Regions from separate parts of the Homo sapiens genome. Here all the other regions are linked to region 3. The links come from fine-mapping of genetic effects on gene expression. A gene starts in region 3. Each other region holds a variant in brackets. All regions are shown on one strand. Distances are between the middles of the regions.

Evidence for each region. PIP is the estimated chance that this variant, and not a neighbour inherited with it, causes the effect.
Region 1: its variant is fine-mapped to the expression of LINC00989 in whole blood (GTEx, PIP above 0.99).
Region 2: its variant is fine-mapped to the expression of LINC00989 in whole blood (TOPMed, PIP above 0.99).
Region 4: its variant is fine-mapped to the expression of LINC00989 in unexposed skin (GTEx, PIP 0.93).

The regions. Positions count from the first base shown.
Region 1 is chr4:79,515,309-79,523,418 of GRCh38, forward strand. All of the region lies in intron 3 of LINC00989 (long intergenic non-protein coding RNA 989), which reads left to right. Among named protein-coding and RNA genes, the nearest start is that of LINC00989, 27 kb to the left of the region's middle. The variant A/C (reference allele first, on the strand shown) is at 4,492.
Region 2 is chr4:79,573,978-79,582,087 of GRCh38, forward strand. LINC00989 (long intergenic non-protein coding RNA 989) reads left to right here. Exons shown (of 4, transcript NR_038826.1): 4 at 1,164-2,483. All of the region lies in intron 1 of LOC107986294 (a long non-coding RNA gene), which reads left to right. Among named protein-coding and RNA genes, the nearest start is that of LINC00989, 85 kb to the left of the region's middle. The variant T/C (reference allele first, on the strand shown) is at 4,723.
Region 3 is chr4:79,489,123-79,497,232 of GRCh38, forward strand. LINC00989 (long intergenic non-protein coding RNA 989) reads left to right here and starts at 3,471. Exons shown (of 4, transcript NR_038826.1): 1 at 3,471-3,652; 2 at 4,030-4,463.
Region 4 is chr4:79,551,917-79,560,026 of GRCh38, forward strand. The region is part of intron 3 of LINC00989 (long intergenic non-protein coding RNA 989); the gene reads left to right. Among named protein-coding and RNA genes, the nearest start is that of LINC00989, 63 kb to the left of the region's middle. RefSeq lists enhancers at 6,615-7,612, 7,613-8,110. The variant T/C (reference allele first, on the strand shown) is at 3,898.

The DNA.
Region 1 (8,110 bases), 26 kb after region 3:
ACAACCACTTTATCTGTGGAAATCAGTTATAAAAAGTGATAAAATACACTCAACATCCCCAAAATTCAGAGTTTAAGATGAGGAAATCCTTACCATTGCCAAAAGGAAAAAAAGAAAAAAGAAAAAAGATTTGAGTGTTGCTAGGACCATTTCATTCAGTAAATGTTTATCAGGCATTTGCACTTTTCTACTTTTATTGCTCATTTGATTTCTGCTGCTTGAAATATTCTCCACTCACTGTCTTTCCCTGAAGACAAACCCAAATGTCACCTATGTTTGAAGCTTTCTTTAATTGCCTTTTTACCCTGAACCCATGAGCCCTTCATTCTCCCTTTACCAAAATTCTCTACCATTTATTATGTACAGGATTGTTTAACACATGTCTTAAAAACACATCCTGTGCTATCAGTTCGAAATCTCCACCTTTGAGAGTTAGGCTTGTCTTATTCATATTTGCATTGTTTGCAGTGCATTGAATCTAGTGGTGGCTCAAGAAAATATTATGTTCAATTTAAAAATAGGTGTTCTATTTCTAGTTTTGCAGCATCTTACTGAACACCAGCACACACTGAAAATAGATCACATATTTCCCTGGCAAACAATTTACGATTTGAATTTTCAATGAGTCCAGCGTTGATGGACTTGTGACAGGACATGTGATTATTTGGTGGATTCAGAATGAACCTATTAATAGCTTTTCAGATAATTCATCTAACGTGGCTGTAGGAGCTTCACAAAGTAATAAAGAAGTCGAGATTTCAGTTAAGAGAGTATCAGACAATATGACTCCTGATGGACTGGGCATACCAACTTCTAGGAAGCTTTAGCAGAGATTTCATTGCAAATGGTAGAGAGAGTTAGCCTCTCTCCTCTTTCCCTTCGCACTATGTCCTAGGATTGGTTGGTTTTTAAAATTCTTTGTCAGAGAACTCCTAACACTGAAACAAAATAGGTAACAATGTTAGAAAATTGCATGAGGGAAATCTAGAAATGCTGACCTTTCATTTGAGAGTAAAGCACCTGAATCAGCTTTCAGATTGTCGAAAAGAAAACACAGCTATTTCCAAAACAACTAAAAAAGTAAATTAAAAAAACTATATTTGGAGAAGAAAATAATAGAAATAATCTGGAATTAGAGAATTAAAAAGTATAGTATAAAAGAGCTTAAACTGAGCAAGTTTTATTTTTTCAAGATAAATGAATGATGGATCTTCTTTGGGATTTGATTGGTAGACATTTTTTGTGCGTTTCTGAAAATGGAGCTGTTCCATAAGACATGAATTGGTCTTCAATCTAATAACAATTTCTAACACTGAACAGAATCTAGGAATCACTTCTGTTTTGAAGTTTCTATAATATGTAAGAATTATGACAACAGTAATGCCAGGCTTACAAATAAATAGTTGTTAAATAATAAGATAAATATATTAAAATAAAAAGCATTTCAAAATAAGCTCTGTACTCTCTAAATATCCACACTGTATTATCACCTTATTATATTTATTTTTACATATTCATTTCTGCATTTATTTTTATAAATCAATGCTCCCATCTACATCTATATTTATCTATCTCTTTATATAGCATCCTCAAGACACAAGGCAGATGCCACGTTCCAGTATGTTTTATGGCACAAAAAGGTACTCAGTAAATGTTAAATTGAATAAGTAAATATTGAAAGATATTGAGCTTAGACAGGCATAAATATAGGATCACACTGAAGGTGAGCTATGTGAAAATGTATAAGTGAAATCTGAAGTGATGGTTTCAATTTTGCTAATAAATAATTTTACAGCAACAGTTTCTAAGGGATGTGAAAGGACAGTGCTTTACCTAGTATTATTTGCTGGCATGAGTGAAATACATTTTAAGAGAAAATTACATGGATGAAACTGTCAACTTTCTTTTTTTTGTATTTTATTATTATTATACTTTAATTTTAGAGTACATGTGCACAACTTGCAGGTTTGTTACATATGTATACATGTGCCATGTTGGTGTGCTGCACCCATTTAACTCATCATTTAGCATTAGGTATATCTCTTAATGCTATCCCTCCCCACTCCCCCCACCCCACAACAGTCCCCGGTGTGTGATGTTCCCCTTCCTGTGTCCATGTGTTCTCATTGTTCAATTCCCACCTATGAGTGAGAACATGCGGTGTTTGGTTTTTTTGTCCTTGCGATAGTTTGCTGAGAATGATGGTTTCCAGTTTCATCCATGTCCCTACAAAGGACATGAACTCATCATTTTTTATGGCTGCATAGTATTCCATGAAGCTATATGTATATGTATATGTGCCACATTTTCTTAATCCAGTCTATCGTTGTTGGACATTTAGGTTGGTTGCAAGTCCTTGCTATCATGAATAGTGCCGCTATAAACATATGTGTGCACGTGTCTTTATAGCAGCATGATTTATAATCCTTTGGTTATATACCCAGTAGTGGGATGGCTGGGTCAAATGATATTTCTAGTTCTAGATCCCTGAGGAATTGCCACACTGACTTCCACAATGGTTGAACTAGTTTACAGTCCCACCAACAGTGTAAAAGTGTCCCTATTTCTCCACATCCTCTCCAGCACCTGTTGTTTCCTGACTTTTTAATGATCGCCATTCTAACTGGTGTGAGATGGTATCTCATGGTGGTTTTGATTTGCATTTCTCTGATGGCCAGTGATGATGAGCATTTTTTCATGTGTTTTTTGGCTGCATAAATGTCTTCTTTTGAGAAGTGTCTGTTCATATCCTTCACCCACTTTTTGATGGGGTTGTTTGTTATTTTCTTGTACATTTGTCTGAGTTCATTGTAGATTCTGGATATTAGCCCTTTGTCAGATAAGTAGATTGCAAAAATTTTCTCCCATTCTGTAGGTTGCCTGTTCACTCTGATGGTAGTTTCTTTTGCTGTGCAGAAGCTCTTTAGTTTAATGAGATCCCATTTGTCAATTTTGGCTTTTGTTGCCATTGCTTTTTGTGTTTTAGACATGAAGTCCTTGCCCATGCCTATGTCCTGAATGGTATTGCCTAGGTTTTCTTCCAGGGTTTTTATGGTTTTAGGTCTAACATTTAAGTTTTTAATCCATCTTGAATTAATTTTAGTATAAGGTGTAAGGAAGGGATCCAGTTTCAGCTTTCTACATATGGCTAGCCAGTTTTCCCAGCACCATTTATTAAATAGGGAATCCTTTCCCCATTGCTTGTTTTTGTCACTTTTGTCAAAGATCAGATGGTTGTAGATATGTGGCATTATTTCTGAGGGCTCTGTTCTGTTCCATTGGTCTATATCTCTGTTTTGGTACCAGTACCATGCTGTTTTGGTTACTGTAGCCTTGTAGTATAGTTTGAAGTCAGGTAACGTGATGCCTCCAGTTTTGTTCTTTTGGCTTAGGATTGACTTGGCAACGTGGGCTCTTTTTTGGTTCCATAGGAACTTTAAAGTAGTATTTTCCAATTCTGTGAATAAAGTCATTGGTAGCTTGATGGGGATGGCATTGAATCTGTAAATTACCTTGGGCAGTATGGCCATTTTCACGATATTGATTCTTCCTACCCATGAGCATGGAATGTTCTTCCATTTGTTTGTATCCTCTTTTATTTCATTGAGCAATGGTTTGTAGTTCTCCTTGAAGAGGTCCTTCACATCCCTCGTAAGCTGGATTCCTAGGTATTTTATTCTCTTTGAAGCAATTGTGAATGGGAGTTCACTCATGATTTGGCTCTCTGTTTGTCTGTTATTGGTGTATAAGAATGCTTGTGATTTTTGTACATCGATTTTGTATCCTGAGACTTTGCTGAAGTTGCTTATCAGCTTGAGGAGATTTTGGGCTGATACAATGGGGTTTTCTACATATACAATCATGTCATCTGCAAACAGGGACAATTTGACTTCCTCTTTTCCTAATTGAATACCCTTTATTTCCTTCTCCTGCCTGATTGCCCTGGCCAGAACTTCCAACACTATGTTGAATAGGAGTGGTGAGAGAGGGCATCCCTGTCTTGTGCCCGTTTTCAAAGGGAATGCTTCCAGTTTTTCCCATTCAGTAACTGGCAAACTGGATAAAGACTCAAGACCCATCAGTGTGCTGTATTCAGGAAACCCATCTCACATTCAGAGACACACATAGGCTCAAAATAAGGGGATGGAGGAAGATCTACCAAGCAAATGGAAAACAAAAAAAGGCAACGGTTGCAATCCTAGTCTCTGATAAAACAGACTGTAAACCAACAAAGATCAAAAGAGACAAAGAAGGCCATTACATAATGGTAAAGGGATCAATTCAACAAGAAGAGCTAACTATCCCAAATATATATGCACCCAATACAGGAGCATCCAGATTCATAAAGCAAGTCCTTAGTGACCTACAAGGAGACTTAGACTCCCACATAATAATAATGGGAGACTTTAACACCCCACTGTCAACATTAGACAGATCAACGAGACAGAAAGTTAACAAGGATGTACAGGAGTTGAACTCAGCTCTGCACCA[A/C]GTGGACCTAATAGACATCTACAGAACTCTCCACCCCAAATCAACAGAATATACATTCTTTTCAGCACCACACCACACCTATTCCAAAACTGACCACATAGTTGGAAGTAAAGCACTCCTCAGCAAATGTAAAAGAACAGAAATTATAACAAACTGTCTCTCAGACCACAGTGCAATCAAACTAGAACTCAGGATTAAGAAACTCACTCAAAATCACTCAACTATATGGAAACTGAACAACGTGCTCCTGAATGACTACTGGGTAAATAATGAAATGAAGGCAGAAATAAAGATGTTGTTTCAAACCAATGAGAACAAAGACACAACATACGAGAATCTCCGGGACACATTCAAAGCAGTGTGTAGAGGGAAATTTGTAGCACTAAATGCCCATAAGAGAAAGCAGGAAAGATCTAAAATTGACAACCTAACATCACAAGTAAAAGAACTAGAAAAGCAAGAGCAAACACATTCAAAAGCTAGCAGAAGGCAAGAAATAACTAGGATCAGAGTAGAACTGAAGGAGATAGAGACACAAAAAACCCTTCAAAAAATTAATGAATCCAGGAGCTGTTTTTTTTTTTTTAAAAAGATCAACAAAACTGATGGACCACTAGCAAGACTAATAAAGAAGAAAAGAGAGAAGAATCAAATAGACACAATAAAAAATGATAAAGGCGATATCACCACCGATTCCACAGAAATACAAACTACCATCAGAGAATACTATAAACACCTCTACGCAAATAAACTAGAAAATCTAGAAGAAATGGATAAATTCCTCGACACATACATCCTCCCAAGACTAAACCAGGAAGAAGTTGAATCTCTGAATAGACCAATAACAGGCTCTGAAATTGAGGCAAGAATCAGTAACTTACCAACCAGAAAAAGTCCAGGACCAGATGGATTCACAGCCAAATTCTACCAGAGGTACAAACAGGAGCTGGTACCATTCCTTCTGAAACCATTGCAATCAATAGAAAAAGAGACAATCCTCCTTAACTCATTTTATGAGGCCAGCATCATCCTGATACCAAAGCCTGGCAGAGACACAACCAAAAAAGAGAATTTTAGACCAATATCCTTGATGAACATTGATGCAAATATCCTCAATAAAATACTGGCAAACCGAATCCAGCAGCACATCAGAAAGCTTATCCACCATGATCAAGTGGGCTTCATCCCTGGGATGCAAGGCTGGTTCAACATACGCAAATCAATAGATGTAATCCAACATATAAACAGAACCAAAGACAAAAACCACATGATTATCTCAATAGATGCAGAAAAGACCTTCGACAAAATTCAACAACGCTTCATACTAAAAACTTTCAATAAATTAGGTATTGATGGGAGGTATCTCAAAATAATAAGAGCTATATATGACAAACCCAAGCCAATATCATACTGAAACTGTCAACTTTCTATGACTGTTTCCCTGGTTTCTAAGTTAATCATTAAATTATTTTAGGCCAAACACAAAAGTGATTAAGTGCACTAATGCCCTATCTCTACTTTGTATCCTGAGCAGACTTCTTCAGCTGTCTGGGACATACATACCTTTTGCTCTATTGTACTGATGTATTTTCCTTACATTCATTCAAAAGGAACCTTCTGACCTCACTCCAACTAGGAGACATCTGTTACTGCAGTCATAAGCTGAGGACTACAATTTAATAACCAATAGCTGACAAAGAAAAAAATATTTTAAAAACTCTCCAAAAGGATGGTTTAATTAACAAAAAGAAGACCCCTAAAATGACAAAATAAACCCCAGAATAGCTTTCAGTTAAAGAATAAAATAAACACTTGTCAGTCACCACATTTAAGCTTGAATTAGGCTTTTGAAGGTACCTGTAAAAACCTTATACTTCCCTCTCGCTCTTGCCTTAGAATGACCATCCTATTATATTTTCAAATCCAGGTTCACAGCAACATATAGATGACATTATATTAAGATAAAAGTCTGTATATTTCTTATGATAGCTTACTATTTAAATGGCATGTCTGGTTTAGGATGTCAACAGGACATGTAATAATTGGCAGTAAAGGCACAAGGGTAAATTTGTACAAGAATTTTGTGCTAAGTTTTATGCAACTGGTTCCCAGAAGCTACGGGAAAATAAGGAATTCTGAAAGTGATTTAATAAAGAATAATGAATATTTTAAATACATACAAAACCTTTAATGTGCCTAAAATTGGGCCTTAAGGGGTGATAGGGCTTGTAGTATTTTGATTTTGTCTTGCTTCTCTGTAACAATACATTCCGGATATCCTTCATGGTTATAGAACAGATCATTCAGATGTATGTGAATGGTATTGAACATATAATTTGGGTAGATTATTGTAAAACACCAGTTTCACTGGAGTCACATGATGAAAAAAATCCAGATTTTGAATTAAAGAATGCTGGAATTGTGTATGTATTGGTGATTGGGTGAAGAGAAGTCCTATCTAAGGGACTACTACTGTGGGTTCAGAAATAGGTTTCATAGACTGACTTTCATGAAATATAAAGCTATACTAGAATCATCTACAGAAAAAGGACTAGGCATACCTGAATAAAAAGTGTCTCAGATATTTCTGATTAGAGAGGGATGTTAATCTTTAGCCACAGACCGCTCACCTTCAATGGAAACTAAAATTAGGAACACTTTATTATGTCAACTTCCCTGGATCTGACATTTACAACCTTGTCTTTGAAAAGTTGCTAATCATGATTTAATTGAGATATTCCTTCTTCTCATTTTTCTGTATCTTGTGTGTGCGTGTGTGTGTGTGTGTGAACACTGGTAAGTAAAAAAATGAGACTATATAAATACACATCTAAATATGAAATATCAGGACCTGTTTTAGGAGATTTAGAACCAAAGCATAAAGACATTCAGAATGCAAAATTAGAGTAGTATAGTTGGAGTGTAGGGAGGATAACAGAGCCTGGAGAGGGGAGAAGGCAGAAAGAAAACAGTGTAAGAAAACATTTAGGTGGAGGATGGTAAAAACAAGCACTGATGATTATGTTTTTTTTTTTTTTCATCTGTGTCGTGACTATTCTGCTCTGTTCCACCTTTGATGTCTTATAAGGAAGAACAATCAAGATAAAGTTGTTCCCATCATGTGTGGTTTGAAGCTATTATGCTAATTGTTGGGAAAGTCTTATTCCGCACAAGAAATGCCTGAGATATGTCTTGCAGGCTATGGTGTAAATCGCCATGAGAATTGGTTCAAAAGCATCAAAAACCAACATTTTTAAGCTCTTGTATTTTTCTCCACTCCTATACTTTCCAACGGCGTATATTTAGAAGTTGGCATGTTGGGTTTTGAGTAGCTGTGATCTTGTAAATATTCTTTCCTCGGCCCTGCTAAGAAAAGCCATGTCTGATAATGCTCTATAGATGATAGGGAATCTGGATGGTACCGTTCATTCTACTTGACCCTCTGTTCCTTGACTGACTGAATGTGTGTGTGTGTGTATTCTCCAGAGCCTGCAATTTCTCATCTTCTCTGATGATATTTCTATAAAACCAATAAACAACCACTTCTACTTTCATAATTTTGAAGTCCATCCAGTAGACAAATCACCATTCTTTCTCTTCTATTTGGCCTTTAGTGAGG
Region 2 (8,110 bases), 85 kb after region 3:
CATAATTAAATATATATGTTTGATGTCAATATTCCTTTGTTAGTCAGTGGAAATATATGAGTTCTCTGTTCATTGAAACCAGCTCAATGGAAATATTCTTTGACTTGGTGATTAAAAGAAAGGAAATTTGTCTTGCTACTGATGTCAAAATTGTATCATTAAAACATTTTCTGAATATAGAACAGAGTAAGAAAAAGTTTAAAATGTTACTTATTATTTTTTCATCTTCCTCTTTTCTACCTCAAGCTCAAATTTTTAGAAACAATTCCCTTAATTTGTTCTAGTTTCAAAAAGAGAATTGCAGGGATATATGGAGATACATTTATAGAGTTTGAGTAGTTTAGAGGTATGTTTAAAGGGGAGCATTAATCTATCAATACAGTGAAAAAGCATCTATAAGTGATGAGATTGTATGGTCTATATCTGATATAAATAAGCTCACTTAATATCTACATATATAGTGAAGACTACTCATAATCTCAAGAGATTACTATCCAGACATGTGAAAATTGTATATCCACTTGCAAAATTCCCAAATAACATGAAGAATGCATAAATGCAAATTGAGAGGTTTACAACAATAGCTGTCAGAGGAAAACCTGAGCTAATTGGTGAAAGGTGTTAGAGGCAAGGTTCTGAAGCATGAATGAGAATTGGATGAATGAGAAATAAAATAGAGGGAATGTGAGAAGGTCTGCATGAGCAAAGGCTCCAAAGAAGGATGGTGTAAATCTTATTTAATGGAAAAGCACATCAGAATAGGGGCATTTGCAATGAGGGTAGTGGTCATAAAGAGTAGGTGACTTTGAATATCAAAATAAAGAATTGATTTTTATTTAGAATTGTGTATCGTTTCAGTCTATGAGGCCATTATATTTTTATCTCATGTTTTATAGGCAGAAGTATCCTAATCTTTATATGAACCCTTGCAGAGCAAGGGTAAGCTTCTTATCTAATGTTACAGGAGCCGTGAAACAAGCACAGGATTAAGACTTAGAAAGCGTGGATTTGAATTCTGGGGCTGTCGCTTACTAATGGATGATTTTTGCATGTTGCTTAACCTCTCTGAATCTTAGTTTCTTTATGAACATCATAGTACATAGCTGTTGAGATTGGAGAGCCGAGATAGTTAGGATTAATCATGCTTCTTTCTTCCACTCCAGTTTTGAAACCAATGGAGAGATCAACACAAGCTTTGGAGAGGAGATCAAAATATCTGCTTCACTGGAAGGAGTTTTGGATTGCTCAACAAGGTTCAGATCTGTGGCATAATCAGGCTTCCTAATCCTGAACCAAAGTTGTTGTTGTATCTCGTAGTTGTCACCTGAGAGCTGACTGACCTGTTTCAAGCATATGTGAGATGCCTTCTGGAAATGCCCGGAAGCATATAGCTAATGGGATGAGGCATTTCAAGGTTGAACTTCAGCAAGAGCAAGTGGGATAAAGGGCAAAAAGCAGCACATTCCTTTCAAAATGTCCCCATTTTAAACTGCAGGCTAGAGTAGACAATGGAAATATATGACATATAAAGAAACTGGTGAGATTATTAAGCAGAGGGCCTTCTGGGGAGCATTAAAGAGTGAGCAAGAAAAATTTCTCAGACATGGTGATTCTAGAATTGAAAAATCATAGACTCTTTCTCTTCTCTCTCCTTTGAGAGTTTCCAGATGAATTCTTGGATCTGGCTACTGAGCAAATATATGAATAATAACCTAGGATCAGCTGGGTATAAGAGGTTTCCACCAGAAGTCCATGAAAACCAATGTTTTTAAGCATCTATTGGGCAACTACCATAAACAATCAGCAAGATGTTTAAACAGTTGATTCTGCCGGCGGCCCAACCAGTTTTTAACTGTATCACGAAAACTGGCCTGGGGGTACAGTCTGAGATTATTCCAGCCCTGCTTTTACACCGCCAGAAATTCCCTTTCTGTTACAAATTTCTACCCCAGAGAGGTTTGCATATTCTTGGCATTTTCACTGTGCATCAGTGAATCAGCTAGCCTACGGGCCAAGGAGAGGGGAAAAAAATCCCAAATAAAACTCAACCCAGTTAGGATGTCTTCATCTATTTTTCAGTGGGAAAAAATACAGCTGGACTCAGTGACTTCAGTCAAAAGCAAACATTACTAGTTGCTTCATTTTTCTAATTTTTATTTTTGACTCTCAAGTTTTGGAGGGCATAATAAAGACATAGCCTCAGCAAAGTCACTTAGAAGATTGAGTTCGTTATTTTGCAAAGCTTGGGTAGTGACACTTCTGCAAAATGCACAAGCACATGAGCAGAGAGATGTGTGAATTCAGGAAAGCAGCCAAATGCACATCAGAGCTGAGGAATGTCACAGCGAAATGAAGAAAACTTGTAAACACCTATCTGTATTTTTAGGTAGAGAATGTTCTAACATATTGCCAATGGGTGCTGCCTGTGTGTTCCTTCCCCTAAGCTTTAAACTCAACTGATATTAAAGGTGATTTGAAAACAATGAAAATTGACAGCTTTATTAATCTAGATGGTGTGTGTGAGAGAGAGACAGAGTGTGTGTGTGTGTGTGCGCGAACACGCACATGATGTGTGACTGCTGCATGTATAGACTGTGCATTTTTACTGTGGGCCTTGCACAGACGAGGGAGCCCTCTACTGATTGGAAATTGTACTAGATGTAAACTATAGAGGGATGCTTTCAGTGCGTTGCTCATGTATCCTCCAAAATGCAGACATTTTGCTTATTTATTTTTCAAATTATGACAGCAGATGCTTTATTTTCGGAAAGGAACTAGAGATGTCAGTCATCATGTGCATACAAGTATATGTCATTCCTTCTATTTAAGGTAAAATTCTTTGATTAAAAATATCTACACTCAGTCTTCAACCTTTTAATATAAAGATGATTGTAACACAATTAAACCACAAATGTCTACATGACTGTGATGAGAATGTGTGACAGAGATCATAACCGCGTTTATCTATTATCATGGTTTATCACACACTATTTTTTCCCTTAAGCGTGTATTTCTTATTTTATACTTTTTTTTTCTCAGAGCATAAAGACAGTTTTAGGGGTGACAATTTGAACTCATTCATGTGGACAGGTTTGTATGTGCTATATTTTCATATGCATAGTTAAATCATATTATTAAGTCCTGTGTACAGACAAGATTAATATTTAGTTGCTTTTGAGTTTAGATACCTGATTTTTAACCTCATGTCTTTATAAAATAATTATAGTTCAACTTTTCATTAATTTAAATCAATGAATAAAAGTAAAATATGGCTGGGTGCACTGGCTCACACATATAATCCTAGCACTTTGGGAGGCTGAGGCAGGAAGATCGCTTGAGTCCAGGAGTCCAAGACCAGCTTGGGCAACATGCCAAAATCCCAGCTCTACAAAAAATACACCCAGGTGTGGTGGTGCATGCCTGTAGTCTCAGCTACTTGGGGGGTGGAGGGGGGAGGATGGTTTTAGCCCAGGAGGTGGAGGTTGCAGTGAGCCGAGATCACACCATTGCACTGCAGCCTGGGCGACAGAGTGAGATCCTATCTCAATAAATAAATAAATAGAAATATTGTTCGCTTATTTTCAACATGACTGGCCTAATCCTATTATGGGATAGTCTCTCTTACCCTAAACGAGTTTTTTAATAGATTGTTTATTATTAGAATGCCAATTATTCCAATTTTTAACAAAGAATTAACATTTTTCTTGGAAGTTAGCTTAAACGTTTATTAGTTTTATATATAAATTTTACAAGAGAGCCTTTATTAAATCAAATTTTTTTAGAATTAAACTCAGTTTGAGTCTCATTCTGTACATAACTTTAACCCTAACCGTAGTTGAAGGCACTGTGTGTTGTTAAACAGCTACACCTGGAATTAACATGGCAGCATAGCTGACTGGGACATGACAGTGACACAGCTTTAACATCTGCCATCTTTTGACCACCAGCATTAATTTTGTTTCTACATCCAATGTCCTCATCCCTCACCAATCTGTCACTCTTTCTGTGGTTCCAACATTACAAAATAGCCATTGCCTTTATTTCATTGAGGATAAAACACATAATGTCAACCTAGGATGATCAATTTACTCTGCCATTAACAGCCACCATTTATGAAATGCCTACTGTGTGCCAATCCCTTTTCAAAAAAATGACCCAAACCTTAGAAATCTGCATGGGAAATCTCACTATTCCAGTTTGTCGGTTGGTATTCTTTTTGTTTGCAAATGACAAATTGTACTCAAACAAAGTTAAGCAGAAGAAGGGGACTGTATTACAAAGACACTGGAGTATCTCATATAATCCCAAAGGTCAGGTATTGCTTTCTCAAATGACATGTCCTAATAGCTTCGCCGAGGTTTCATTTATTTCTTACTATGAGTTCACTGAAAGTTAGGTGTGGATAAAAGTATCAGTCATTATTTCTGAGTATTAAACTACAATGATTTTTGGATATGGCTAATTTCTAATATCCCTAATTTTAATTTTGTTTAAGAGAGAAAATCCTTTTTTGCTGATTTTTCTCTAATGTTTTTCACACATATTTGAGTAAAAATAAATGCCAAATCAGTTTATATGCCAGCTAAAGAGTTTCATAAACTTGCTACATAGCTTGTAATGCTTTCAAACTAAAGGAGTAGGCAATAATCAACTATAATAAGTGCTATAGAGTTTCACATTTAGTTTTTATTTCTGTCACTTGTCTATGATTCCACAACAAAG[T/C]TCTGGCAATGGTCTGTGGTATCCCCAGTTCCTTCCCCTTGTGGCTGAAGAGCTGGTCAGTGCAGTGACTGGGGAAGTGACCGCAGAAGGAGGGCTGGCAGGATTGCCACAGCGGCGGCTACTGTGCCTGTCCTCATAGTTTAAGCATGTCTCTATGTTGCTGGTGGAACAAGTGGTGACTCTCTGAATGTAAATGCTCCCAATCTGGTTTAATTTACCACCATCACTGGAATCTCCCTTTCATTCTAGCTTGTCTACTGGAATCTGCTTTAGATTCTGCTCTGGTCTCCAGCTCTGCATAGGAATGCCCTGTATATTAAACCTGAATAACAATAATTCAGTGTATTGATGGACAACTTACATTATTAGCATGCAGTGCTGGGATTAGAATATTAGGTGGTGAGATCAAGGATAAGGTGAGATAAGATCATTTAGGATATCTGGTTTCTCTACATTACTGAGAAGGTCATCAGGGGCAGGGATGGGAAAGGTTGAGTTGGCTATGCATTTCACTTACAGTAAAGACCTGCTTTAGTTAGACTGCTCTCCTATTACTAGATAAAAATGAGATCCTGTTGTATGATTGTTGGGGAGTATGTGCCATTCACATAGCCTATGTAGATAGCATTCCTTAGAACATAACCCCAATTACAGTGCAATGCCCTAGAACTGCTGTTACTTGAGTTTGCCTAATAATAGAGATGGATCATGCAGGGTCTGTGCTCTGTTCAATGATCAGAAATGGATACATAAAATTTGGGCGCAGATATGAAATTTGTACAGGCAGAGGAAATTTAATCAAGCCTGAAAAAGAAATGATTACATGTTACTTTTTGGAAGGAATCATTTAGTATGCTACATTTCCAATGAGTTAATTTAACTGTCTGGGGAAAAAATTCCATGAAATATTATGCTCATGTACACTCACCAAAGGAAGAGTATTATTTTAATTTGGAAGCTGTTACTCCTCTTCATATATAATCACTAGGTGAGCAAACTGATTCTTTCATATCATACAGTTGGCAACCGAATAAAAACAGGCAGTTACCCTGTATGTACGTTTTCAGCACATTTTGTCTTGTGATAGGATTGAGTTCTAATGCTTTCTCTTTGTTATTCATAATGGTGTAATTTTTGCAATATATTTCAAAGTGGAGGACTTTCCAAACCTTGTAGCCGAAGGCCTTGAAAGCATACTGTCTCAGGGGGTCATTGGACTGAAAACATGGTTCTGGTTAGCGAGCACAGCCAGCACAGGGGTGAAATGCATTCTGCCCAGAGAAGGCCTGGGCTGAGACATTCGGTTGAACATGTCTCAGTTCCAGTCACCTTCCCAGTCTAGGAATGACCAGAATACCTTTTAATCATACAGCCAGTTTGGTCTCACTAAATTCTGCTGTAAACTCCATATATTGCTTCTGGAAATCTCTTAGACATTCTATTAACTCTTGAAGCCTGATTTCATTTCCTGGACACTGGTTCCCTTGAAAACCTGATGTCTCTTGAGATTTAAATATATAAAGAATAAACTTACAACATGACAAATATATAAAAAATAAACTTACAATGGAGATGCTTTTAAGAATAAAGAAAGAAGGTAATGTTGATAAATCATTACCTTCAGTGCCTGTAACATAAAAAATACTCCTAAGACATCATTATTGCCATGACTCTTCCGGGTTTAGTGTTCAAGTGAAATTTTGTCAACTGTCCTTAAATCCTAGATAGAGTACTCATCAGTGCTAAATAAATTTAACTACTCTAGGTGTCAGCATAGATAATCATATAATGATATGAAAATTTAAAATTCAAAGTTGGCAATTACTTTTCCATCTGATTTAAGGAGTTAATGGATGATTGTAAACTTGGTCATCTGTTTAACTCAAGTGTTTCAGTATGTAGGGTACCCTACAGAGATTAAGACTTGGGGTCCCATGATTTGGAGTCAGAAACCTGAATTCAATTCCAATTCTTCCATTTAGTAGCCATATGTTTCAAAGTGATTCACAATTGCTACAATATCCATATTCTGTAACTCTTCCTAAATACTCTTCTTTGACAAGAACTCTGCAAAGCCATTTCATGTACAGTAAGAAGAACAAAAGTTAAGAACATAGAATTTAGCATCAGACAGAACTGGTTGGGTCCCATTTTTAACACTCACTAGCTATGTGACCTTGGACAACTTCCCAAACCTCTAAAACTCAGTTTCTTCCTCTGGCTACTAAAATTAAAAATAGTATTAATCTTATAGTTGGCTGTGAAGATAAGATCAATTACAGATGAATGCTCATAGCACAGTGCTTGCAACATGCTACATTTTGAAAAAATACTAATTTATTTTATTATTTTCTCATCACTAAAGTTGAAATAATTATATCTTCTTTGTCTATGCTATAGGTTGTTTTGAGTATCAAATGAGGCAATGTGGTATATAAAACTATACATATAAAAAGGAAATTTATAAATGATTTTCTTGAATTTTCTTGGGCAGAAACATACTTGGAAAACAGTGCCAAATGCTAAGGCTTAGAAAGTGTTTTGCCAGAAGATATGTTAATCTTAAGGTTCTCTTCTGTCTACTACTTTAACAGTAAGAAAGTAAAACTGGGACAGTAGTTACTCTTACAAAGCTATCACTCTCTGTCAATGACAAAGCTACATTGTCCTAAGTCAATAAAGTAACATTTATTGATGTCATATATACAAAATCACCATCTCAATTAATTTTTTCTTTTTCAATTAATAAATGAGACACTGTATTTTGTTGTTGTTCTTATTGTTCTCCAAATAGGAAACCTTTAGTTTCTTAATATTTTATCTCCCTTAAGATTCCCTGAAAATTAAAAAAAAATGAAAAAGACTATTAACCCAGTGATAAATATTCATTAAAACTTATATACCTAGAAATGGGATTCTTTTCATAGACAGGTTTCTATGTTTTTTATATTCTCCTAGGCAGCTTTCCAGATTTTCATTCTTGAATTGATAATCTAAGGTCTGATCACCGTAAAGAATTGTGTTAACACTGTATTAGAGTCTTAAAATAGTTTGGAGAAATTTAAAATATATATCTGTATAAAGTTACTATGCAGATGCTACTTCTATCTTCCAAAAGTCTCAAAATTCTTGATGCAAATAAAAAAGTGCATAATATTTTAATATAGGTTCATATTGATTTTATGAGACTCCTCTGAAAATATTTAGTACACTTATTGATATGAAATTTAAATTCAGGCTTTTTTTCCATTATACTGGCCAATTGAATGGAATTTCATCCAGACTGAAATATTCAAACAAATAATAAAGGCACACAAAAAGACATAAGTAAAGTAGATATAATGATGTAATTAAAATTAACGTCCTCTCATTCCTGGATTAACCATTA
Region 3 (8,110 bases):
CCCATCCTCTGTAGAATAGAAGTGGTGAGAGTGGGCATCCTTGTCTTCCTCCAGTTCTCAGGGGAAATACTTTCAACTTTTCCCCAATCAGTATAACATGGCTATACGTTTGTCATAGATGACTTTTATTACCTTAAGGTATGTCCCTTCTATGTCAGTTTTGCTGTGGGTTTTAATCATAAAGGAATGCTGGATTTTGTCAAATGCTTTTTATTTTTCTGTTGAGATGATCTTACGATTTTTGTTTTTAATTGTGTTTATGTGATGTATCACATTTATTGACTTGCAGATGTTAAACCATCCCTGCATCCCTGGTATGAAACCCACTTGATCATGGTGGATTATCTTTTTGATATGCTGTTGGATTTGGTTAGCTTGTATTTTGTTGAGAATTTTTGCATCTATGTTTGTCAGGAATATCGGTCTGTAGTTTTTTGGTTGTTGTTGTTATGTTCTTTTCTGGTTTTGGTATTAGCGTGATACTGGCTTCATAGAATGATTCAGGGAGGCTTTCCTCTTTCTCTGGCTTTTGGAATAGTTTCAATAGGATTTGTACCAATTCTTCTTTAAATGTCTGATGGAAATCAGCTGTGATTCCATCTGTTCCTGGACTTTTTTTTTTGTTGTTGGCAATGTTTTTTTGTAACCATTTTAATCTTGCTGCTTGTTGTTTGTCTGTTCAGAGTATTTCTTCCTGGTTTAATCTTGGAGGTTTGCATATTTCCAGGAATTTATCCATCTCCTCTAGGTTTTCTAGTTTGTGTGTGTAAAGGTATTCATAGAAGACTTGAATGATCTTTTGTATTTCTGTGTTATTGGATTTAATATATCCCGTTATGTTTCTGGTTGAGCTTATTTGGATCTCCTCCCATTTTTTCTTGGTTATTCTTGCTAATGGTCTATCAATTTTGTTTATATTTTCAAAGAATCAGCTTTTTGTTTTATTTATCTTTTGTATTTTTTTGTTTCAATTTCATTTAGTTCTGCTCTGATCTTTGTTATTTCTTTTTTTTTTTTTTTTTTCTGCTGGGTTTGGGTTTGGTTTGATCTTATTTCTCTGGTTCCTTGAAGTGTGACCTTAGACTATCTATATGTGTTCTTTCAGACTTTTTGATGTAGGCATTTAATGCTATGAACCTTCCTTTTAACATCGCTTTTGCTGTATCACAGAAGTTTTCATAGGTTGTGTTATTGCTATCATTCAGTTCAAGTAATTTTGAAATTTCCATTATAATTTCATTGTTTACCAAAATATAATTCAGGAGCAGATTATTTTATTTCAATGTATTTGCATGGTTTGAGGATTCCTTTTGGAGTTGATTTTTAATTTTATTCCACTGTGGTCTGAGAGCATATTAATATAATTTTGATTTTCTTAAATTTATTGAGGCTTGTTTTGTGCCTATCATATGATCTACCTTGGAGAATGTTCCATGTGCTGATGAATAGAACATATATTCTGCAGTTGTTTGGTAGAATGTTCTGAATATATCTGCTAAGTCCATTTGTTCTAGGGCATAGTTTAAGTCCATTGTCTGACTTGTTTTTGATGACCTGTCTAGTGCTGTCAGTGGAGTATTGAAGTCACCCACTATTATTGTGTTGCCTCTTATCTCATTTCTTAATTCTAGGAGTAATTGTTTTGTAAATTTAAAGCTCCAGTTTTAGGTGCATATGTATTGAGGATTGTAATATTTTCCTGTTGGACTAGTCCTTTTATTATTCTATAATGTCCCTCTTTGTCTTTTTAAATTGTTGTTGCTTTAAAGTTGGTTTTGTCTGATAAACGAATAGCTACTTCTGCTTGTTTTTGGTGTCCATTTGCATGGAATATCTTTTTCCATCCATTTACCTTACATTTATATGGGTCTGTATGTGTTAGGTGAGTCTCTTGAAGACGCAGATACTTGACTGGTGAATTCTTATCCATTCTGTCATTTTGTATCTTTTAAGTGGAGCATTTAGGCCTTTTACATTCGATGTTATTATTGAGATGTGAGGTACTGTTCTATTCATCCTGCTAGTTGTTGCCTGACTACCTTGTTTTTTTTTTTGTTTGTTTGTTTTTGTTTGTTTTTTATTGCTGGTGAGCTTGTGTGATCATTTGGGGTGTCAATGAATCTTGCTTTGTCATATCATCAGAATTGTTTTTCTGGTTCCTTCTCATTTGGGTAGACTATTTCAGAGGAAAGATCTGGGACTCAAGGGCTGCTAATCTGATTTTTTTTTCCTATGGGGTGATCCCTTGATGTGGTGTTCTTTTTCTTCCCCTAGAAATGGAGCTTCCTGAGAATAAAACTGCAGTGATTGTTATTGTTCTTCTGTGTCTAGTCCCCCAGTGGAGCTACTGGGCTCTGGGCTGGTATTGGGGAGTGTCTGCAAAGATTTCTGTGATGTGATCCTGTGAAGACCTGTCTTCAGGTCTCTCAGCTGTGGATGCCAGTACCTGCCCCAGTGGAGGTAGCAGGGAAGCAAAGTGGACTCTGTGAGAGTGCTGGTTGTAGTTTGTTTAGTGTGCAGATTTTCTCGAATGCTGGTTTGCTAGCAGTGAAGCTGTCATGTGGACAGACTCAGGACCTCTGGTTAGCCAGGGTGTTACAGGTGGTGTTTTCTCCTTTCTTGGAGTAGGATTGTTCTAAGTTGCTGTAATGGCTTGAGTTGGTTGACTTCCAGCCAGGAGGTGGCACTTTTAAGAGAGCATCAGCTGCGGTAGTAGAAGGGGGATACAGGCTTGCCCTAAGTTGGCCAGGGTAAATATTCAGTCGTCTCAGGTAATAGGTGAGGCCATAGAGCTCCCACAAGTTTATATCTTTTGTCTCTGGTTACCAGGAAGGGTAGAGAAAACCATCAGGTGGGGGCAGGGTTAGGCAGGTCTCAGCCTAGACTCTCCTTGGGCTTGCAGTGGCCACTTTGAGGGATATGGGGTGTGTCTCAGGCCAATGGAGTTATGTTCCATGGGAGATTATGGCTGCCTCTGCTGCTTCCTACAGGTTGCCAGGTAAGTGGTGGAAAGCCATCAGTGACAGGCCTTACCCAGCTCCCATGAAACCAGCAAGGCCAGTCTCATTCCTGCCATACTCCCCCAGCAGCCAACAGTGCCCAATTTATACCCAGGCCTCTGGTGCACAGGGCTGAGATCCTGCCCCAGGCTACAAGACTCCCTGCTGAGAGAGCAAGCATGGCTTTCAGTCCTCACCCTTCCCTTCCTGTTGCGGCTTCTGTGCTCCTATCTGTACTTCCCGTTCCCCACACCCCAACCCCCTGGACTCTGCCCAGGAAAATTTGTCGTCTTTGGAAATTATTACAAAGTTCAGCTGGAAGTCTCCTTCTCCCTGTGGACCTTCCCCAATTCCACTGGCTGCCCTCCTCAAGGACCCCTGTGAGATAAATTCAGAAATGGCTATCCTTGGCTTCCCTGGGGAACAAGAGTGCCTGCAGTTCTTTTCCCACTTCTTTTACTTTTCTATTTCACTGGGCTCTCTAAATTCATTTCAGCTCTAGGTAAGGTTAAACTCTTCTCCCGTCTTCTGGATTTTCAGGTTCTCCAGGGCCGATGTATGTTTGGAGATGGATTTCCCCCTCTCACACTTCAGGCACTCAGTTTTTTGGCAGTCTCATGGAGTTTTCAGTGGCAAGCCGCTTATTTCAAATGGTCTGTGAATTCTTTTGGTTTTTCTGATATGTTCCTGGTGTGATTCTTCACCAATTTTATCTCGAATTATATTTTATTCTACATTATGATTGCTATTATTTCCTTATTTTTCTTTGTATTTATGATATATTTCTGCCATTTAAAAAATTTCTTACTACTTCTCTGACATTTGACTTTTGGTCTTTTTCTATTAAGTAAAGATTTTAAAATAATGTTTTAATTTGAGAAACTTTAGTTTTTAATTGAACTACTAAAACGTTTTACACTAATTATATTATTCTTTCTGATCTTGTCAGAGATTCTCTATTTTGCTCACCTATTTCTTTTCTAGCTGATGTTTATTATATTGACTATATTATTATTATTTTTTCTTTTAGGGATTTGGAAAGGATTCCGTGATGGTTAATATTGAGTGTCAACTTGATTGGATTGAAGGATGCAAAGTATTGTTCCTGGGTGTGTCTGTGAGGGTGTCACCAAAGGAGATGAACATTTGAATCAGTGAGCTGGGAGACACAAACCCATACTCAATCTTGGGGGACACCATCTAATCAGCTGCCAGTGCAACTAGGATAAAATCAGGCAGAGAAATTTGGAAAGACTAGACTGGCTGAGTCTTCTGGCCTTCATCTTTCTCCCATGCTAGATGCTTCCTGACCTCGAATATCAGACTCCAAGTTCTTTAGCTTTTGGACTCTTGGACCTTTGGCCACAGACGGAAGGCTGCACTTTTGAAGTTTTGGGACTTGGACTGGCTTCCTTGCTCCTCAGCTTACAGATGGCCTATTGTGGGACTTCACCTTGTGATTGTGTAAGTCAATACTCCTTAATAAACTCTGCTTTATATATATATCTATCCTATTAGTCCTGTCCCTCTAGAGAACCCTGACTAATACAGATACACAGAAAGTTCAATTTTCTAAATTTTAAGCATTTTAAAACTTACTTGGGTCTATTTTTCTCTCATCATCTATGAACAGAGTAAAACAGTAACTATTATCATTCACATCCCTCCAGCTCAGATGCTACATTTGGCATAATTTTCACATTACTATTTTTCCTTCACACTGTTTTGCTGATATAATCTCAGATTTCAGATCCAGGTTATTATTAATTATTAGCTTAATATTTTGTATTTTTATCTTGTAAGTACTACATTTGAAATTTTAAAGCTAATCACTCTATAGAGCTAAGAATTCTATTTGCTGAGTTATTTATATTTATTTCTTAGTTGACTTAAGTGACTAGTCAAATAGTTTTTTTCACAAAGAATTTTATATGACATTGCCTCTCAGTCTAGTGTATCTAAAAACAACTTTCTGTCGCTCTAGCATATAAATATGAGCTTTTCTAACTAAAATGCCTTGGATCTCAATCTTTTCTGCCCAAAGCTCTGTAAACCTTTGTTTTTCTTAGCATTTAATATTGCAAATAAAGTCTGATCTACAGACATTCTGTTTTTTTGTTCCTTTATGGTTCATGGGATTATTTCATACGACAGAAATGTATTCTGAGGGGTACTGGAATATATCACTTCAAAATAAGCCTCTTTGGAATACAATTTTTTTTTATTTTTATTTTTTTTTGTTAAAGGCCACTGAGAAAACTTCTGCCTATTTGTCTCTAATTAATCTGTCTTTGGCTAGTCTAATTCACAGGGCCTCTGCTGGAGAACCTAAGATGAGTAGAGGAAATGATTTGTTGTTTTCCTCTCCTGAAATACCTAACTGTGGGTGTTTATATTAGCAATGATTTTTATCTTCACATTTTTTTCCTGATCTTAGATTGTTTCTTCCATAACATTACACTCCTCATATTAATCTTTTTCAAGGGAATGATAGAGAAATTTATCACAACAGCTGTTTATTTTATTCACTAGCTCAGGCAAAAAGAGCTCGTCCAGGCTCTCTGATTGTCTTGACCATCACCAGACAGATAAGGTGCCCTAAGTTTTGGAGTGGAAGGGTCACTGTAAGCTACCCGCCTACTTTCCATAAGTGCTGATGTTCCACAGGTAGGACAAAAGTGAGTTGGTCCTTTAGGCTTCCATCAAATCTTCGACATGGGCACAGATGCTCCTTGACTTACAATGGGGTAACATCTGGATGAATCCATCATAGGTCAAAAGTATCATTAGTCTAAACGCATTTAATACACCGATAAACCCATCTTAAAGTCAAAAAACCATAAGTCAAACCATCGTAAGTTGGGACCAGTCTATGTAGGATCTAGCAGATTATTTTAACTTTCTATATGTGGATGATATTCTTCACAGTTTCCAGAGCTGATGCAAACTTCCTGTTGTTTTGATATTTGGTCAGCCATTTCCAGCTACAAATATGGGAACTCGGGAGGATCTGTGCTCTAATCTTCAGTCTACCATACTCCCAGCACTTTAGGGGTCTTAAGTCTGATAAAGTTTTGAAAAGGAAAGAGAAAAGCTGCATTCTGTGCTCCTGAGACAGGGAAGCCCAGCGGAAATAAAATATCCAGGATGTGGAGCGGGCGAGATTGTGCACCATTAGTATGTAAAGCCTTGATTCAGATGGATGGTTAGGAGTACAGTGCCAATGAGAGAGAAAGAGAGAGAGAGAGAGAGAGAGAGAGAGAGAGAGAGACACCTCTGTTTGGACCGGGCATCTTTGCTGTTTGAAAGAAACCTTTCATCCAGACAGTTTGAGTCTGATCTTACCTCATTCTACTGGTGAGCTGTACTATGTCTTGCACAGTGCTGCCTCCCTTTTTTTCTGTGGCTCTTTGACACCCCCACCTCCCTGCCAGCCTGGTGTGGCTGATCAAGCTGTTCAAACAACTGGAAGACATCAGAAGTTAAACACTCATTATTTTAATTTGATGCTAATCATGTGTTAATGAGACTAATCCTTGCAATGATTCAGGTAATTTGCTTAATGGCTGCCCAGAGTACAGATTATAGCAATCAGTCACGTCTGATAAGATGTCTGTTGTGGAGGAGGCTGTCAGGTGAATGAAGTGGGAAAAGGCTCAGGAGTAAGGGTCTGATGTCAGGCATGTTCTGTGTTGGAGGGTAGGAGTTAAGGGAAGGAGACAGCTCAGAAATCCAAATTTTCAATGAGAAATGAACATCCTAGTGTTCTTGTTTAGAAGGAAGAAGTTGGTGTTGACAGGCTTTCTCATCTTATAGTGACACATACACACTGAGATAAGCATGACAGTTTGAAGAGAGTTGGATATACAGTTCATTTTGTTCTGGAGAAATCAGTACAATTATTAGTAGACATATTCCTACAACTATTAAATTGAGTTAAAAATCTTTTTTGCTATCAAAATGTCAAAGAAAAGATGAAACCACTCAGAGCAAAGGAAGATACATTTTTTTCTTCTCATCTTAGGAAATAGATGCTAAAATCAACATTCTAAACTGAAGCATTATTATGTTTATAGTATACTCAAGCATTGTAAGTCTATAGTCAGTCCTTCATATCCATGGGTTTTGTATCCATGTTTTCCATCAATCATGCCTTTGAAAATGTCAGAAAAAAAAGTACACCAGTAAAACTAACACAAAACAAAAAATGATACAGTATAGCAACTATTCACATAGCATTTACATTGTATTACATTTTATGAATAACCTGGAGATAATTTAAATTATAGGGGACAATGTGAGTTGGTTATATGCAAATACAATGCCATTTTATATAAGGTACTTAAGCATCACTGGTTTTTGTAATCTGCAGGGGCAGCGCAGGGTAGGACAGATGTCCTGGGACAATCCCTCACAGATACTGAGGGACAACTGAAGATACAGTCTCTGATGTGCTTAAACTAATCAGTTAGTCCTATGTTGGAGGCATGCCACCGTCTACAACTTTGCTGGATTGAATCATGATATATTTTTCAATAAAATATTGAAACTCAATAAATTATAAAATGTACAGATATAGAAATAACAAAACACTTCTAGAGTACATGTTCAAAAATTCTGCCGATTATTTGCTTTGCTTTAATTTATTTGTACTGATAGAAAATTTAAAATTTTATAGATTTATAAATCTAGATATCTGAATTGTTTCATTCCCATTCAGTATTTTGGTGAGGAGAGAAAAGTGAAAAAAAGGAGATAGATTCAGGCATGAAAAAGATTTGTAGTTTATTTTATGTTTAACTTAGTTGTTTTGATACATTCATGATACCCTCTTCTATCTTCTGTGGAATGCAATTTAGTTCAATGTAACAACATTTCTGTAGTATATCTTATCTTCAAGGAGGTGTTATTTAGTTTCTTTTGTTTCTTTATTTGTTTTGTGTTTTACAAAACAAGGGACAAGCATCTTTCTTGGGAGCAAAGAATGTGCCCATCTTATGACAGTGAGGGTAGGAATGGACAGGGAAGGAAAAATTGGAGTCAGCTGTTTGAGGACTAGATGTTCAGCTGCTCTAACTCAGAATGTGAATTTACAATAAGGATGTAGAGGA
Region 4 (8,110 bases), 63 kb after region 3:
AACAATACATGCTGGGGACTCCAAAAGCAGGCAAGGTGGGATAGACATGAGGGTTGAAAAATTGTCTGTTGGGTACAATGGTAACTATTTGGGTGATGAGTACAACAGAACTCCAAACCCCCATTATGCAAAACATCCATGTAACAAATCTGCACATATACTCCCTCAATCTAAAATAAAATAAAAATTTATAAAGTAGAAAAAATGAACTAAATAAATAAATGCCACAGTTTGAGGGTGATAAGATGGACAGGTATGCATGTGTAGTGGAAAAATGTGAGGGAGATTGCTATTTTATAAAGGGAGGTCAAGAAAACTCCCTAGTCATGTGACCTTTGAGCAAAGACCTGTAAAAAGTGAATTTTGTGGATAGATATGTGATTGATTGTATATTGACCAAGATGATCTTGACTTCCCTTCATCTTGACTTAACTTTAGACAGGTTTTTTTATGAGTATGGGCCCTTGACCTCCCTTTTCTTTGAGCATTTCCTTTAGAAATTTTGCAATCTTAAATACCTTCTCTGTTTCTTTGAAATGTAAATTTTCTACAACCAAGGAATGTCTCTCCAAAAGACCTGGAAACCTTTTCTTTTAAATGTAATAAGCTAGAAACACAGGGCCCTTATCTCCCAGTCTCTGTGAAAGGGAAGGGGGGCAATAAATGACAATTAGCAAACACAGATGGTCTATTGGCATTGACCAACCTCCTGGCTAACTTTCTCCAGTACTTTTGCACTATCTCACCTCTGAGCTTAAAATCTCTCCTACTTTTTGTTTCAACCTATCTCTCCTTTTGCAATGGACTCGATCCTTATTGCAATAATTTTGAGTAAAGTTTTTCTTTTTCTTTTTTGGAGATGGGGCCTAGCTCTGAACCCAGGCTGGAAGGCAGTGCCATGAACATGAATACTATAGCCTCAACCTCCCTCCCATCACAGCCTCCCAAGTATCTGGCACCACAGGTGAATGCCACCATGCCTGGCTAGTTTGTTTTTTCTCTTTCTTTCTGAAGAGACAGGGTCCCACTCTGTTGCCCAGGCTGCTCTTGAACTTCTGGGCTCAAGTGATACTCCCACCTCAGCCTCCCAAAGTTCTGGGACCAAATAGTTTTCCTTGCCTGATGAATCACTCCAGAGCATTTTTTTCCTTCACAGTTTAGAGTATGAGAGAAAGAGAAAAGTGAAAATGGCCCCAAGAAATTTGACTTGAGCAATTTAAAGGAAGTCGTTGTCACTGATTCGGAAAAACAAAATCGTTTTGGAAGGAAGAAGAAAATAAATGAAGTCACCTTTGCAGCTGTTACATTTGAGTTATATATTAGATATCTAAGAGGAGAGGTAAAGTGACTAGTTGAAAGTAAGAATCTGGAGTTCAAGGAAGGGTACTGAATGGAAATATGAATGTTTGCAAGTGTCAGTATAGGCATAGTATTCACATCCATAGGGTGAAATGAAAGTCAGTGGGTTTTGCCAAAAAGAGGAAAGAGGTCTAATGATTAAGCCCTGGAAAATTTCATTATTATAAGATGATAGGAGACCAGAAAAGTAAAATAACCAGGTACAGTAAATAAGATGAAAGAGGAACAAGGAGAATAGTGTCCTGGAAGCCAAATGAACAGGGTACTACAAGAAGAAGTGATCAACTGTGTGGAAGGCACAGATAGGTTGAATTAAAGATAAAAATTATGAATGCAGGACTTGATTTATCAAAATGGACATTGCAGGGACTTTGACCAGAGCTTTTCGTTGGAATGATGAGAACAAAAGCCTAATTTTGGTGGGTTCCAGAGTGAAAAAAGGAGAGGAAATGGAGACAATGAGTACACACAACTATTTTGAAGCTTTTCCATAAATGGAAGCAGAGATATGCTATAGTGGTTGAAGAGGAATATGAAGTTGAAGAGTATTTCCCTCCCTCCCTCTCTCCCTTCCTCCCTCCCTTCCTCCCTCTGTCCCTCCCTCCCTCACTCCCTCCTTCCTTCCTTCTTTCTTACCTTCCTTCCTTCCATCCTTCCTTCCTCTCTTTCTTTCACTTTCTCTCTTTCTTTTCTTTCATGCGCGTCCGTGTGAAGAAACCACCAAACAGGCTTTGTGTGAGCAATATAGCTATTTCACCTGGGTGCAGGTGGGCTGAGTCCGAAAAGAGAGTCAGCGAAGGGAGATAAGGGTGGGGCCGTTTTATAGGATTTGGGTAGGTAAAGGAAAATTACAGTCAAAGGGAGTTTGTTCTCTGGCGGGCAGGAGTGGGGGTCCCAAGGTGCTCAGTGGGGGTGCTTTTTGAGCCAGGATGAGCTAGGAAAAGGACTTTCACAAGGTAATGTCATCACTTAAGGCAAGGACCGGCCATTTTCACTTCTTTCATGGTGGAATGTCATCAGTTAAGGTGGGGCAGGGCATATTCACTTCTTTTGTGATTCTTCAGTTACTTCAGGCCATCTGGGCGTATACATGCAAGTCACAGGGGATGCGATGGCTTGGCTTGGGCTCAGAGGCCTGACATTCCTGCCTTCTTATATTAATAAGAAAAATAAAACAAAATAGTGTTGAAGTGCTGGGGCGGCGAAAATTTTTGGGGGGTGGTATGGAGAGAGAATGGGCGATGTTTCTCAGGGCTGCTTCAAGCGGGATTAGGGGCGGCGTGGGAACCTAGAGTGGGAGAGATTAAGCTGAAGGGAGGTCTTGTGGTAAGGGGTGATATTGTGGGGATGTTAGAAGAAACATTTGTCATATAGAATGATTGATGATGGCCTGGATACGGTTTTGGATGAATTGAGAAACTAAATGGAATGACAGAAGGAGAAAAACAGGTATAAAAGGTCTAAGAATTGGGATGACTCAGGATATCTGATTAGAGACTGCCTAAGGAGATTCAGCATAGTCCTGCCAGCAAAGATTATTTATTTAAGAGTTAAGAGTGGCAGTTTGGGGATAGCACCAGGAGATATCAGCTGTGATGGCTTGGAAAAACAGTGTAAACTGGCAGTGTAAACAAGAGCAGGGCATGTATGAGTAGTTGAGAATGGTGAATAGGAGTATGACTAGACAGAAGATAGTAGGGATGACAAGTTTTCTGGGGCACAGTCCAAGTTGGTCTGGTGTCTGGAATGAGACTGGGGCCTAATGAAAAGGAGCGTCTTCTATACAGGAGCTTAAATGGGCTGTACCCTGTAGCATTCTGAGGACAGGCCTGAATTCTGAGAAGGGAAAGTGATAAAAGTATTGTCCAGTCCTTTTTGGTGGCTGAGCTTGGTGAGGTGTGTTTTTAAAAGACCTTCAGTCCATTCTACTTTTCTTGAAGATGGAGGACCGTAAGGGAAATAAAGGTTTCACTGAATACTAAGAGCCTGAAAAACTGCTTGGCTGATTTGACTAATAAAGGCTCATCTGTTATCAGACTGTATAGAGGTGGGAAGGCTAAACTGAGGAATTAAGTCTAACAGAACGGAAGAAATGACTGCGGTGGCCTTCTCAGACCCTGTAGGAAAGGCCTCTACCTATCCAGTGAAAGTATCTACCTAGACTAAGAGGTATTTTAGTTATCTGACTCAGGGCATGTTGAGTAAAGCTAATTTGCCAGTCCTGGGTGGGGCAAATCCTCGAGCTTGATGTGTAGAGAAGGGAAGGGGCCTGAAGAATACCTGAGGAGTAGTAGAATAGCAGATGGAACACTGAGAAGTTATTTCCTTGAGGATAGATTTCTACTATGGAAAGGAAATGAGAGGTTCTAAGAGGCGGGCTAGTGGCTTGTGCTATAGTATAACCTGCCTTTACTGGTGTGTGGCGATTAGGCCTGGGTGGAACCGCCATCAATAAATCAAGCATGATCAGGGTGAGGAACAGAAAAGAAGGAAATTTGGGGAAATGGGGTGAATGTCAGGTGGATCAGAGGGATACAG[T/C]CATGGGGGTCAGGTGTGGTATCAGGAATAATGTGGGAGGCCGGATTGAAGTCTGGGCCAGGAACAACGGTAATTGTGGGAGACTCAACAAAGAGTGAGTACAGCTGAAGGAGCCGGGAAGCAGAAAGTATATGCATCAGGTATGAGGAAGAAAATAGATTTTGGAAGTTATGAGAACTGTAGAGAGTGAGTTGAGCATAGTTTGTGATTTTGAGGGCCTCTAAAAGTATTAAAGCAGCGGCAGCCACTGCACGCAGACATGAGGGCTAGGCTAAAACAGTAAGGTCAAGTTTGGACAGAAAGGCTACAGGGTGTGGGCCTGGCTCTTGTGTAAGAATTCTGACCGCGCTAACCATGCCTAGGAAGGAAAGGAGTTGTTGTTTTGTAGAAGGTGCTGGGGTTTGAGGGGTCAGTCAGACACGATTGGCAGGGAGAGCACGTGTGTTTTTATGAGAATTATGCCAAGATAGGTAACAGTTGAGGAAGAAATTTGGGCTTGATTGAAGTAATGGGGGCTGTCTGTGAAGCTTTGCGGCAGTACAGCCTAGGTAATTTGCTGAGCTTGATGGGTGTCAGGGTCAGTCCAAGTGAAAGCGAAGAGAGGCTGGGATTAAGGGTGCAAAGGAATAGTAAAGAAAGCATGTTTGAGATCCAGAACAGAATAATGGGTTGTAGAGGCAGGTATTGAGGATAGGAGAGTATATGGGTTTGGCACCACGGGGTGGATAGGCAAAACAATTTGGTTGATAAGGCGCAGATCCTGAACTAACTTGTAAGGCTTCTCTGGTTTTAGGACAGGTAAAATGGGGGAATTGTAGGGAGAGTTTATAGGCTTTAAAAGGCCATGCTGTAGCAGGCGAGTGATAACAGGCTTTAATCTTTTTAAAGTGTGCTGCGGGATGGGATATTGGCGTTGAGTGGGGTAAGGGTGATTAGGTTTTAATGAGATGGTAAGGGGTGCATGATTGGTCGCCAAGGAGGGAGTAGAGGTATCTTATACTTGTGGGTTAAGGTGGGGGGATACAAGAGGAGAACGCAAAGGAGGCTTTGGATTGGGAAGAAGGGCGGCAATGAGATATAGCTGTAGTCCAGGAATAGTCAGGGAAGCAGGTAATTTAGTTAAAGTGTCTCAGCCTAATAAGAAAACTGGGCAGGTGGGGATAACTAAAAAGGAGTGCTTAAAAGAGTATTGTCTAAGTTGGCACCAGAGTTGGGGAGTTTTAAGAGGTTTAGAAGCCTGGCCATCAATACCCACAACAGTTATGGAGGCAAGGGAAACAGGCCCTTGAAAAGAAGGTAATGTGGAGTGAGTAGCCTCCGTATTGATTAAGAAGGGGATGGGCTTACCTTCCACTGTGAGAGTTACCCGAAGCTTGGCGTCCGTGATGGTCTAGGGGGCTTCCGAGGCTATCGGGCAGTGTCAGTCTTCAGCCGCTAAGCCGAGAAGATCTGAGAAGGAGTCAGTCAGAGAGCCTTGGGCCAGAGTTACAGGGGCTCTGGGAGTGGCTGCCAGGTGAGTTGAACAGTCCGATTTTCGGTGGGGTCCCACAGAGCTGGGACGTGGCTTAGGAAGAATCCCGGGCTGCGGGCATTCCTTGGCCCAGTGGCCAGATTTCTGGCATGTGTAGCAAGCTCCTGTGGGAGGAGGTTCTGGAGGAACGCCTGGCCACTGCGGTTCAGGCGTTTTGAAGTTCTTGTGTGCTGGAGATGTGGCTGGGGTTTGTCTCACAGTGGAGGCAAGGAATTGCAACTTTTTTCTATTATTGTATGCCTGAAGGCGAGGTTAATTAAATCCTGTTGTGGGGTTTGAGGGCCGGAATTTAATTTTTGGAGTTTTATTTAATGTTGGGAGCAGATTGGGTAATAAAATGTATTTTGAGAATAAGACGGCCTTTTGAACTTTTAGGGTCTAGGGCTGTGAAGCGTCTCAGGGTTGCTGCCAAACAAGTCATGAACTGGGCTGGATTTTTATATTTGATGAAAAAGAGCCTAAACGCTTCTGATTTGGGATAAGGAAAAAGGAGCATTAACCTTGACTCTATGCCTTTAGCTCCAGCCACCTTTTTAAGAGTAAATTGCTGGGCAGGAGGGGGAGGGCTAGTCACGGAACGAAACTGTAATCCGGACCAGGTGTGAGGAGGGGAGGTGATAAAAGGATTATAGGGTGGAGGAGCAGAGGCTGAGGAAGAATTGGGACCTAGCTCGGCCTGGCGAGGAGCAGCCTGGGGAGGAAGGGAGAGGTCAGATGGGTCTGTAGAAAAGGAAGATTAGAAAGACTCAACGACGCTTGGGGTTGGTACTGAGGGGACAGGTGGGAGGGAAAGAAGGAAGATTTGGGACGAGTTGCACTGGGCACAGAGACTAGGAAGGGACTGATGTGTAAAAGAATGCCTGGACGTCAGCCACCTCAGACCGTTTGCCTATTTTATGACAAGAATTATTTAGATCTTGCAGGATGGAAAAATTCAAAGTGCCATTTTCTGGCTATTTGGAACTACTGTCGAGTTTGTATTGGGGTCAAGTGGCATTGCAGAAGAAAATAAGGCATTTAAGTTTTAGGTCAGGTGTGAGTTGAAGAGGTTTTAAGTTTTTGAGAACACAGGCCAAGGGAGTAGGAGGAGGAATGGAGGGTGGAAGGTTGCCCATAGTGAAGGAAGCAAGCCTAGAGAAAAGAGAGTAGAGAAACAGAGGGAAGGGGTTCGGGGGATCTTACCTTCCAGAAAAGTGGGGAAAGGGGTTGGGGCACAGAGATAAGAGGTCGGGGCATGGAAATAAGGGATTGGGGTGCAGAGATACGAGGTTGGGGCGTGGAAATAAGGGATTGGGGCACAGAGATAAGAGGTCGGGGTGCGGAAATAAGGGATTGGGGCACAGAGATAAGAGGTTGGGGCGTGGAAATAAGGGATTGGGGGTTCTTGCCCCCTAGAAAAGCAGGACTTGCTGCTAAGGGTGAAGGAGAAGGGGTTGGGGTACTTGCCCCTGCCCCAGGAAAGCGGGACTTGCCACTAAGGGTGAAGGACCAAGGCAGGCGTCCCTGCGTGGTCTGACACCCTTGAAACGTCAGTGTATAATCAGAGAGGCGTCCCTGCAATTATTAAACACCAAGGGAAGGCTGCCTTCCCAGTCCGTGACCAGCGCCGGAGTTTTGGGTCCATGGATAAAACGTGTCTCCTTTGTCTCTATCAGAAAATGAAAGTTATTGAAATTAAGAGAAGAGAGAGATTAAAGAGTGGAAAGGAGAAAGTGGTTGAGGGACAGTGAGAGAGGTTGGAGAAGAGAGTAAGAAGAGGCCGCTTACCTGATTTAAAATTGGTGAGATGTTCCTTGGGCTGGTCAGTCTGAGGACCTGAGGTCATAGGTGGATCTTTCTCACGGAGCAAAGAACAGGAGTACAGGGGATTGAGCTCCCAAGGGAGGTCCCCTGATCCGAGTCACGGCACCAAATTTCATGCGCATCCGTGTGAAGAGACCACCAAACAGGCTTTGTGTGAGCAACATGGCTGTTTATTTCACCTGGGTGCAGGCGGGCTGAGTCTGAAAAGAGAGTCAGTGAAGGGAGATAGGGGTGGGGCCGTTTTATAGGATTTGGGTAGGTAAAGGAAAATTACAGTCAAAGGGGGTTTGTTCTCTGGCAGGCAGGAGTGGGGGTCGCAAGATGCTCAGTGGGGGAGCTTTTTGAGCCAGGATGAGCTAGGAAAAGGACTTTCACAAGGTAATGTCATCACTTAAGGCAAGGACCAGTCATTTACACTTCTTTTGTGGTGGAATGTCATCAGTTAAGGTGGGGCAGGGCATATTCACTTCTTTTGTGATTCTTCAGTTACTTCAGGCCATCAGGGCATATACCGGCAAGTCACAGGGGATGTGATGGCTTGGCTTGGGCTCAGAGGCCTGACTCTCTCTTGATATAAAATATTATAGTATGTTTGTGTGCTGATGGGGGATTTAGTAAAATGAGGGATTTAATGTGATTAGAGAATAATTTATGTCTATTAAAGGAGGAGTTCATCCTAAAGAAAGTCATGGGCTGTACGTGGTGGCTCACGCCTGTAATCCCTGCACTTTGGAAGGCTGAGGCAGGCAGATCACCTGAGGTCAAGAGTTTGAGACTAGCCTGGCCAACATGATGAAACCCCATCTCTACTAAAAATACAAAAAATTAGCTGGGTGTGGTGGCATGCACCTGGAATCCCACCTACTTGGGAGGCTGAGG